Homo sapiens: one gene and its partner. Changing the gene in region 1 together with any one later gene gives a genetic interaction. Each region holds a gene or a part of one and is shown in the gene's direction. Other genes may lie near its edges.

The links.
Region 2: changes in CMAS (region 1) and ZNHIT6 together harm fitness more than expected from each alone (negative genetic interaction), as found in Homo sapiens cells (one large-scale study listed by BioGRID).

Annotation. Positions count from the first base shown.
Region 1 is NC_000012.12:22,052,377-22,056,471, forward strand, and holds part of CMAS (N-acylneuraminate cytidylyltransferase), read left to right. Parts: intron 1-2,772; coding exon 2,773-2,915; intron 2,916-3,078; coding exon 3,079-3,234; intron 3,235-4,095. UniProt on the Homo sapiens protein: Catalyzes the activation of N-acetylneuraminic acid (NeuNAc) to cytidine 5'-monophosphate N-acetylneuraminic acid (CMP-NeuNAc), a substrate required for the addition of sialic acid.
Region 2 is NC_000001.11:85,701,934-85,705,730, reverse strand, and holds part of ZNHIT6 (box C/D snoRNA protein 1), read left to right. Parts: intron 1-3,470; coding exon 3,471-3,574; intron 3,575-3,797. UniProt on the Homo sapiens protein: Required for box C/D snoRNAs accumulation involved in snoRNA processing, snoRNA transport to the nucleolus and ribosome biogenesis.

The DNA of each region.
Region 1 (4,095 bases):
AAGAAGGAAGGAAGGAAGAAAAGCAAACCTCCTCCAAAATTCTGTTTTTTTTCTTGCTTTTTAAACATTACTTAAAGACCACTGAACCCTCTGGTATTGAATTTTCATTGCAGTAAAAATCAGGATAATGAAGTAAATGGCTTCAGCAATTTATTTCAATTAATGTAAATTAGATGCCAAATTACCATGTCTTTTGCCTTCCCTGTTTATTTTTTATTGTATTCTAATTTCATCTTATCCTCTCGTCATCTCTATTTTAAAAATGCACTAGGTTTTCATTGCTACTTTACTTTGTTATATACCTTTGACTATGACATTTCCCAAGAGAACATTTTTTTCCCACTATTTCAGATTTCAAGATGGAGGAAAATGGGGGCTCCTGCGTTCGCCCTGCATAGAGTGACATAAGTAGATATCACGGGATTCTTGACCCCTAGCCAGTGGCTCATCTTGTTTGCTAGGCTTTCTTTGATTATTTTTTCTTACTGACTTTATCCCTTGATTTAAATCCCTCTATAAATATTAAAGGGAATAAACGAAATAAATAAATGAAATCCAGGGATGTTAGAAGATTTTCTTTAGTTTTTCACTTTCTTTCCACTCATGATAATTGAGCATAGACAAACATGCAGTTCAGCCGAGCGTGGTGGCTTACACCTGTAATCCTAGCATTTTGGGAGGCTGAGGTGGGAGGGTCACTTGAGGTCAGGAGTTTGAGACCATCCTGGCCAACATGGCAAAACCCCATCTTTACTAAAAATTGGTCGGGCGTGGTGACACATGCCTGTAATCTAATCCCAGCTACTCAGGAGCCTAAGGCATGAGAATCGCTTGAACCTGGGAGGTGGAGGTTGCAGTGAGCAGATAATGGGCCACTGTACTCCAGCCTGGGTGACAGAGCAAGACTCTGTCAAAAAAACAAACAAAACATGCAGTTCATCTTTCCCTCAGTAGATATCGAAAGAGTGGGATAAAAGGAAAAATATATATGTGTGTGTGTATATGTATACATATACACACACACATATACACATTATATATACACATTATATATACACGTTATATATAATTTTGTATGTATATAAAATAATGTGTATATATGTTTGTGTGTGTATATATATATATACACACCAAATATATATATATATATACACACACATACACCAAAGACTATAAGTCATTAAGATATCTTTGCATAAATCACTATTAAAACATGGTGGGGGCCGGGCACGGTGGCTCACGCCTGTAATCCTAGCACTTTGGGAGGCCGAGACGGGCGGATCACGAGGTCAGGAGATCGAGACCATCTTGGCTAACACGGTGAAACCCCGTTTCTACTAAAAATACAAAAAATTAGCCGGGCGTGTTGGCGGGCGCCTGTAGTCCCAGCTACTTGGGAGGCTGAGGCAGGAGAATGGCATGAACCTGGGAGGCGGAGCTTGCAGTGAGCCGAGATCGCGCCACTGCACTCCAACCTGGGAGACACAGCGAGACTCCGTCTCAAAACAAAACAAAACAAAACAAAAAAACATGGCAGGGTTTTGTTGTTGTTTTTTGTCTTTTTTTTTGAGACAGGGTCTCGCTGTGTCTCTCAGGCTGGAGTGCAGTGGCGCGATCTCGGCTCACTGCAACCTCTGCCTCCCAGGTTCAAGCGATCCTCCTGTCTCAGCCTCCCTAGTAGCTGGGATTACAGGTGTGCATCACCATGCCCAGCTAATTTTTGTATGTTTAGTAGAGTCCGGGTTTCACCGTGTTGGCCAGGCTGGTCTCCATCTCGTGACCTCAGGTGATCCACCCGCCTCGGCTTCCCAAAGTGTTGGGATTACAGGTGTGAGACTCCAGGCCTGACCAAACATTGTGGCTAGAGTAGTATTTACATCTTCTGCATTTAGCAGTGGGAATTTGTGACTGTCCAGGAAACAAAACTTCAATAGAAACTGGTACCCCTCTCCAAAACAGCATTTTGCCTACTCATCATTTTGTAAAGGCTAAATAGGCAACTGTGTAACCTGCGGTTAATAGAGTATTAAGTTAAATTCTTTTGAGCTAATGAAGTCATGTTCTTCATGTTTGTTGTTATCAATGGCTATAACCCAGCTGATTCTACATCTATATACCCATTGTTTGTTGTTTAAAAAAGAAAGAGTTGTTTCATCTGATTTTTTTTGAGCCCAGACTTGGGCATTTATTATCTTCTAAGCTTGAAACTGTTTCACCTTTAGGGTTTGGCTAAGCCAAGTCCATTTTTTTTTTTTTAGCAAGCATATTAAAATATTTTATACAATATTTTGGATTTGGATGGAGAATAAGCAAGATCTTTAATTTTCTTTAGATTTGACTTCTAGTGCCTTTTTAAAAACGTTTATTTTAGGTTCAGGGGTACATCAGGCTTGTTACAGAGGTAAGTTGCATGTTGCAGGGGTTCGGTGTACAGATTATTTCGTCATTCAGGTAGTAAGCATAGTACCTGATAGGTAGTTTTTTGATCCTCACCCTCCTCCCACCCTCTACCCTCAAGTAGGCCCCAGTGTCTGTTGTTCCTTTCTTTATATAAAGCATATCTAGGACTGCATTTTTATTCATTAATATATTTATATACAAAATACTTTATAATTTCTTACATTTTATACTCCTTTGGATCTGTAACATTATTATCATTGTGCAAAAAATATTCTCACATTATATAAGCTGTATTTTATGGTTACAGAGCTCCATTTTATTGTTAATGATTTCTTTTGATTTGGCTGTTAATTTCTTTTGATATCTGAACAGTGTATGGGTTTCGACAGACCATGATGAAATTGAGAATGTGGCCAAACAATTTGGTGCACAAGTTCATCGAAGAAGTTCTGAAGTTTCAAAAGACAGCTCTACCTCACTAGATGCCATCATAGAATTTCTTAATTATCATAATGGTATGAATTTGATTAATAGTTTATTCAAACCTTTATGTACTTTTCTACTTCCTTTATTATCTTATAAGACTTGTTTTAACATTTGAATTCCAAACCTTAATATTACTTGCTTGCAAGGAACTTTTTTTTTAAATATCCTTTTCATTTCTCTTGTCTTTTTAAGAGGTTGACATTGTAGGAAATATTCAAGCTACTTCTCCATGTTTACATCCTACTGATCTTCAAAAAGTTGCAGAAATGATTCGAGAAGAAGGATATGATTCTGTTTTCTCTGTTGTGAGACGCCATCAGTTTCGATGGAGTGAAATTCAGAAAGGAGGTAATCTCTTTTCAGTCTTTATTTTAGCTGATTTTATTGAGAATCAATTTTTTTGTATATAAATATCCTTTAGGCATGAGGAGAGTAAAAGGGGAGCTGTAAAAGAGAGTATTTGACTCATTACTTTAGTAGGTAATGACATTTACAATCAGCTGTAAATCTGTTATCGAGCCAACACAGCTAGACCAAATTAATTCTTTGCTTTACTCTTTACAAAGGGACATTCTAATCCTCTTATTTCTGTTTGCCTTTTGAGGCAGATATGCTGTTTTTCTAGATCAAATACTTTTATGTTTGTTCTAGACATGTTTGATGAACTCCATACAAGTCATATAGAGATAGAAAGCATCCACCAAAGTGTTCTGAAGGATTTCAAGAATGACATTTTGAAGTTCTTCCCCAAATTCCTAACTCCATATATAAGAAGGGTTCCCTAGGGTTTACTAGGCATTTTGCCTGCCATGTCCAGTGTGCTATAAATCTTATCCAGAGAATTATTATAAACACTGTGTTTTTCCATTCAGTAATGTACATTTTAGTTGTTTCGTAGGGATTCCATTTTCTGTTGAAATTTTCCATTTTTTTATCCATTTTAAAAAAAGGTCATTTCCTCTAATTTAACATATTTTTGATAGCTATTTGAAAGTCCTTGATTGCAAATTTCAACATCTAGTCACTTACAGTTCTGTAATCTGCTTCTTTCTTGATTGTGAGTCACCTATTTCTGCCTCTTCATTTGGCTCATGTTTAATTGTATATCTGGCATAGACACTTGAGTACATATTTTCCTCCAGAGAGGGTACACCTTTTCTTCTATCAGGAAGATAGGATAAGGGGCTGATCACTTTGATTCAATTAGGA
Region 2 (3,797 bases), on another chromosome or scaffold:
GAGATGATGTGTAAGCAGTGATCTGAGTGCTGAGAAAGAGGCTGTCATGTGAACATTTGGAGGCAGATTATCCCAGGTAGGGACAAAAGTAAAAGGAAAGACCTGAGTCAGAAACAAGGATGTCTGGTTTGAGGAATTAAAAGATTTGCAAGGTAACTGAAGCATAGTGAGTGAGGAGGAGAGTATTGAAAATGAAGTTAGAGAAACTGGTGAGGAGTTGGGTGCAGTGGCTCATGCCTGTAATCCAAACACTTTGGGAGGCTGAGGCCAGAGCATTCCTTGAGCTCAGGAGTTCAAGACCAGCCTGGGCAACATGGTGAAAACCCGTCTCTATAAAACAATACAAAAATTAGCCAGGCGTGGTGGCGTGCCCCTGTACTCCCAGCAACTTGAGAAGCTGAGGTGGGAGGATCACCAGAGCCCAGGAAGGTCAAGGCTGCAGTGAGCCATGATTGCGCCACTACACTCCAGCCTGGGCAACAGAGTGAGACTCTGTCTCAAAAGAAAAAAGAAAAGAAACTGGTGAGGGTTTCTAATTCTAAGTGCAAATGGAAACCATGGAAGGGTTTTGAACATAAATTTGCCTTTTGAAAAACCACTCTTGCACTTTGTGAACTTTAGCGGGGCAAGAATGGAAGATTGGAAGCAGGGAGACCAATTATGCAGCTCTTCCCATGATCCTTGTGAGATAATAGTGGCTTGGGTGTACTGTTTGAATTATTGGGAAGGGATTAGATTGCGATTTTGAAGGAAGAGCTAACAAGACTTGCTATTCTAATACACTTAATTTTCATACTCTTGCATTCCTTTTTTAATTCCTTAAATACTATGCAAAATTAAAGCTTACATATTTGGAATATTTGGCAACTGGTGTTGTAGAAATTTGTTTATGGTGTGATTAAATCGTATCCTGGAATTGTGTTCATTTTAGTATTGGAGTTGCAGAATTTTAATACCTTTTAAACACCTTATTTTATTGGTATTATTGGTACAGACATAATTACATTACACATATCTGAAAGAAAATTATTCATATAGCAACTCTTATTTTTCCTCAAACTTAATTAGGCATAATTAAAATTCTACTTAAAGATAAATTACTTTACAATTTTTTTTTAAATTGTGAAATATAGCAAGTATATTTTCTAAACATCACAAAATGGAAATACACAGTATAATGAATAATTATAAAATGAATATTCATTTAACTACCACCCCAATCTAGAATTAGAACATTACTGGCTTCCCAGAAGTTCCATGCCACCCTTTTATGCCCTTCCCTGATCTTTTCTCATTTCTTTATATTTTTTTCTATCTTAGGACTGTACCACAATTTGTTTACGCATTTTTTTAATGGATTTTGGATTTTCTGTAAGAATAAAAAACAGTTTAGAAACAATGCCACTACTTTTGTCTATGAATTATAGTATGTGTGTGAACATGTGTTTCTAGGGTTTATACCTGGGAATAGAATTGCTTTGTTGTGTGGTATGCATATCTTCAATTTGCCTAGATGTTACCAAAACATTTTCCAAAGTGATTGTACTAGTTTACACTCTCACCAATAGTGTATGAATGTACCTATTGTCATATTCTCGCCAATACTTAGTTTGGTAAGACTTTAAAAATTTTTGTCAATCTGTTGGCTTTGTAATTTTATTGTGGTTTTAAATGTGCAGTTCTTTAATTCCTGATGAGATTGAACCACCTTTCAAATACTTTATTGGCCATTTGGATTTCCTCTTTTATGCAGTGCCTGTTCAAGTCTTTTGCTCATCTTTTCATTGGTCAGCTTTATTTTTCTTACTGGTTTGTGAGAATTCTTGGTATTTCTTGGATGCTAGTGCAAGTTGGTTGTATGTTATAAATACCTTCTTCTAGTCTTTGTCTTGTCTTTTCATTTTATAGTGTCTTGTGGTGAATGGATGTTCTTAGTTTTAATGTAGTCAAATTTATCATTTGTTTCCTTTATAGTTAGTAGGTTTATATGTTTATAAAGAAATCCATCTCTACCTTGAAGTTAGGAAGTTATTCTTTTATAGTTATTGCCTAAAAGCTTTATACTGTTGTGTTTTACACTTATGTCTTTAACTGGAATTGATTTTTGGTATCATATACAGAGGAGTTCCCATTTAATTTTTCATATAGATAATCCACTTTTCCCAGCACCATTTATTGGAAAGTTCATCCTTTCCCTATTGCTCTGTAGGACCACCTTTGTCATATATCAGCATCCCTATATGCTTGGGTCATTTTGTGGCCTTGTCTTTTCCATTCTGTTGGCCTACTGGTATATCCTGCACCAATACTATGCTCTCTGAATTATTGTGGTTTTTTACTGAAACTTGTTATCTGATTAAGTCCTCCCACTTTTTTTCTAGAGTATGGCTATTCAGTGCTGTTTTCAAGGCAAAATAATTGCAAATCTAAGCAAGGGATGGTCCATAGCCATAACTGCTAATGGATTTTTTTTCTTTTTTCCTCTGTTTCAGTGTAACCATACAAGTTTCCTAGCTTGCTCTAAAAGTAGAGATTGTTTCTGGTTCACCCTTATCCTGAAGGTATATTAGGAGGGTTGGTCACTGCTATTAGAATTATTATAATTATCACTACCATTACTGAAACTAAAGTCCTCTAAATTATAAAATTACATGTAATTTCTTAAAACAGTTTCCTACTTAGCCAATGATAGCTGACCCATCCTTTCCTTGGCTTATGGACTTGATTCTGACTGTTTACATTGCAAATTCTAGATCCCTATTCACTTAACAAAAAACTTGCGTTTATATTTTGCCTCTTATTTGAGTGATCTTTCTTCTTCCTTGACTTAATAAAAATCTGGTATTACTTCCTTCATAACTCTGGAATTGCCCAGTTTAGCTTAATCAACCCAGGTGGTCAATGTAATAACACATGTCAGAGCCAGAATGTTCTCATATCCCATTTTGTGCTTCCCACAACAGTGGTTACTTTAAGCTAGGCCTTGTACTAGGCAATGCCTTGGCTCTTCCCTTGAGTGAGCTGTCTAGTAATAAAATCAGTGATATATATATACAGCTAACTGGTAAAACCATCGGTAAAAGAAATCAAGAATTGTGTAGGTAGCCCCCGTGATTGCCAAATGACCTGTGTTTTTGTTTGTTTAATCTCCATTAAATTCTTCTTTGGCTCACAGAACATATGGTTAGAAACACAAGCTCTGGAATTAGACAGACCAGGGTTTGAATACAGGTTCTATCTCTCTGGGATAGCTGTATGATGTTGGGATCTCACTAATTTTTATTGCTAAAATGGAGATGATAGTACCTATTCTCATAGTATCATGGTGAAGATTACATGAGATTACTGCTTAGAGCTGTTGTAACACTTAGGTTCTCAGTAAATCTTAACTATTATTGAACATTGTTTTACTCACTTTTTAAATTTAAGGAATTTAAAAATTAATTTGTCTGTTTGGTTTTTGTTGTTAGATGTACTTTATGAAAAATCGTGCCCGGAGGCAAGGTATTAACTTAAAACTTCTACCCAATGGATTCACCAAGAGGAAGGAGAATTCAACCTTTTTTGATAAGAAGTAAGTTTCTAACTTTTTAGTATATCAGGTATTCTGATTTGATCAGGATCATTCTTTAAGGTTTGGTTGCTATAGAGCATTGCTACCCCAAGTGTGGTTCTGTAAACTGTTTGTTATTGGTCCATGACAAGATAACTGTAGTAATTGTATGTCATGTAACTCTAATAAAAATTTGGGTTTGCAGTGTGTGCGTGTGTGTGTGTGTGTGTGTGTGTCTTCATAT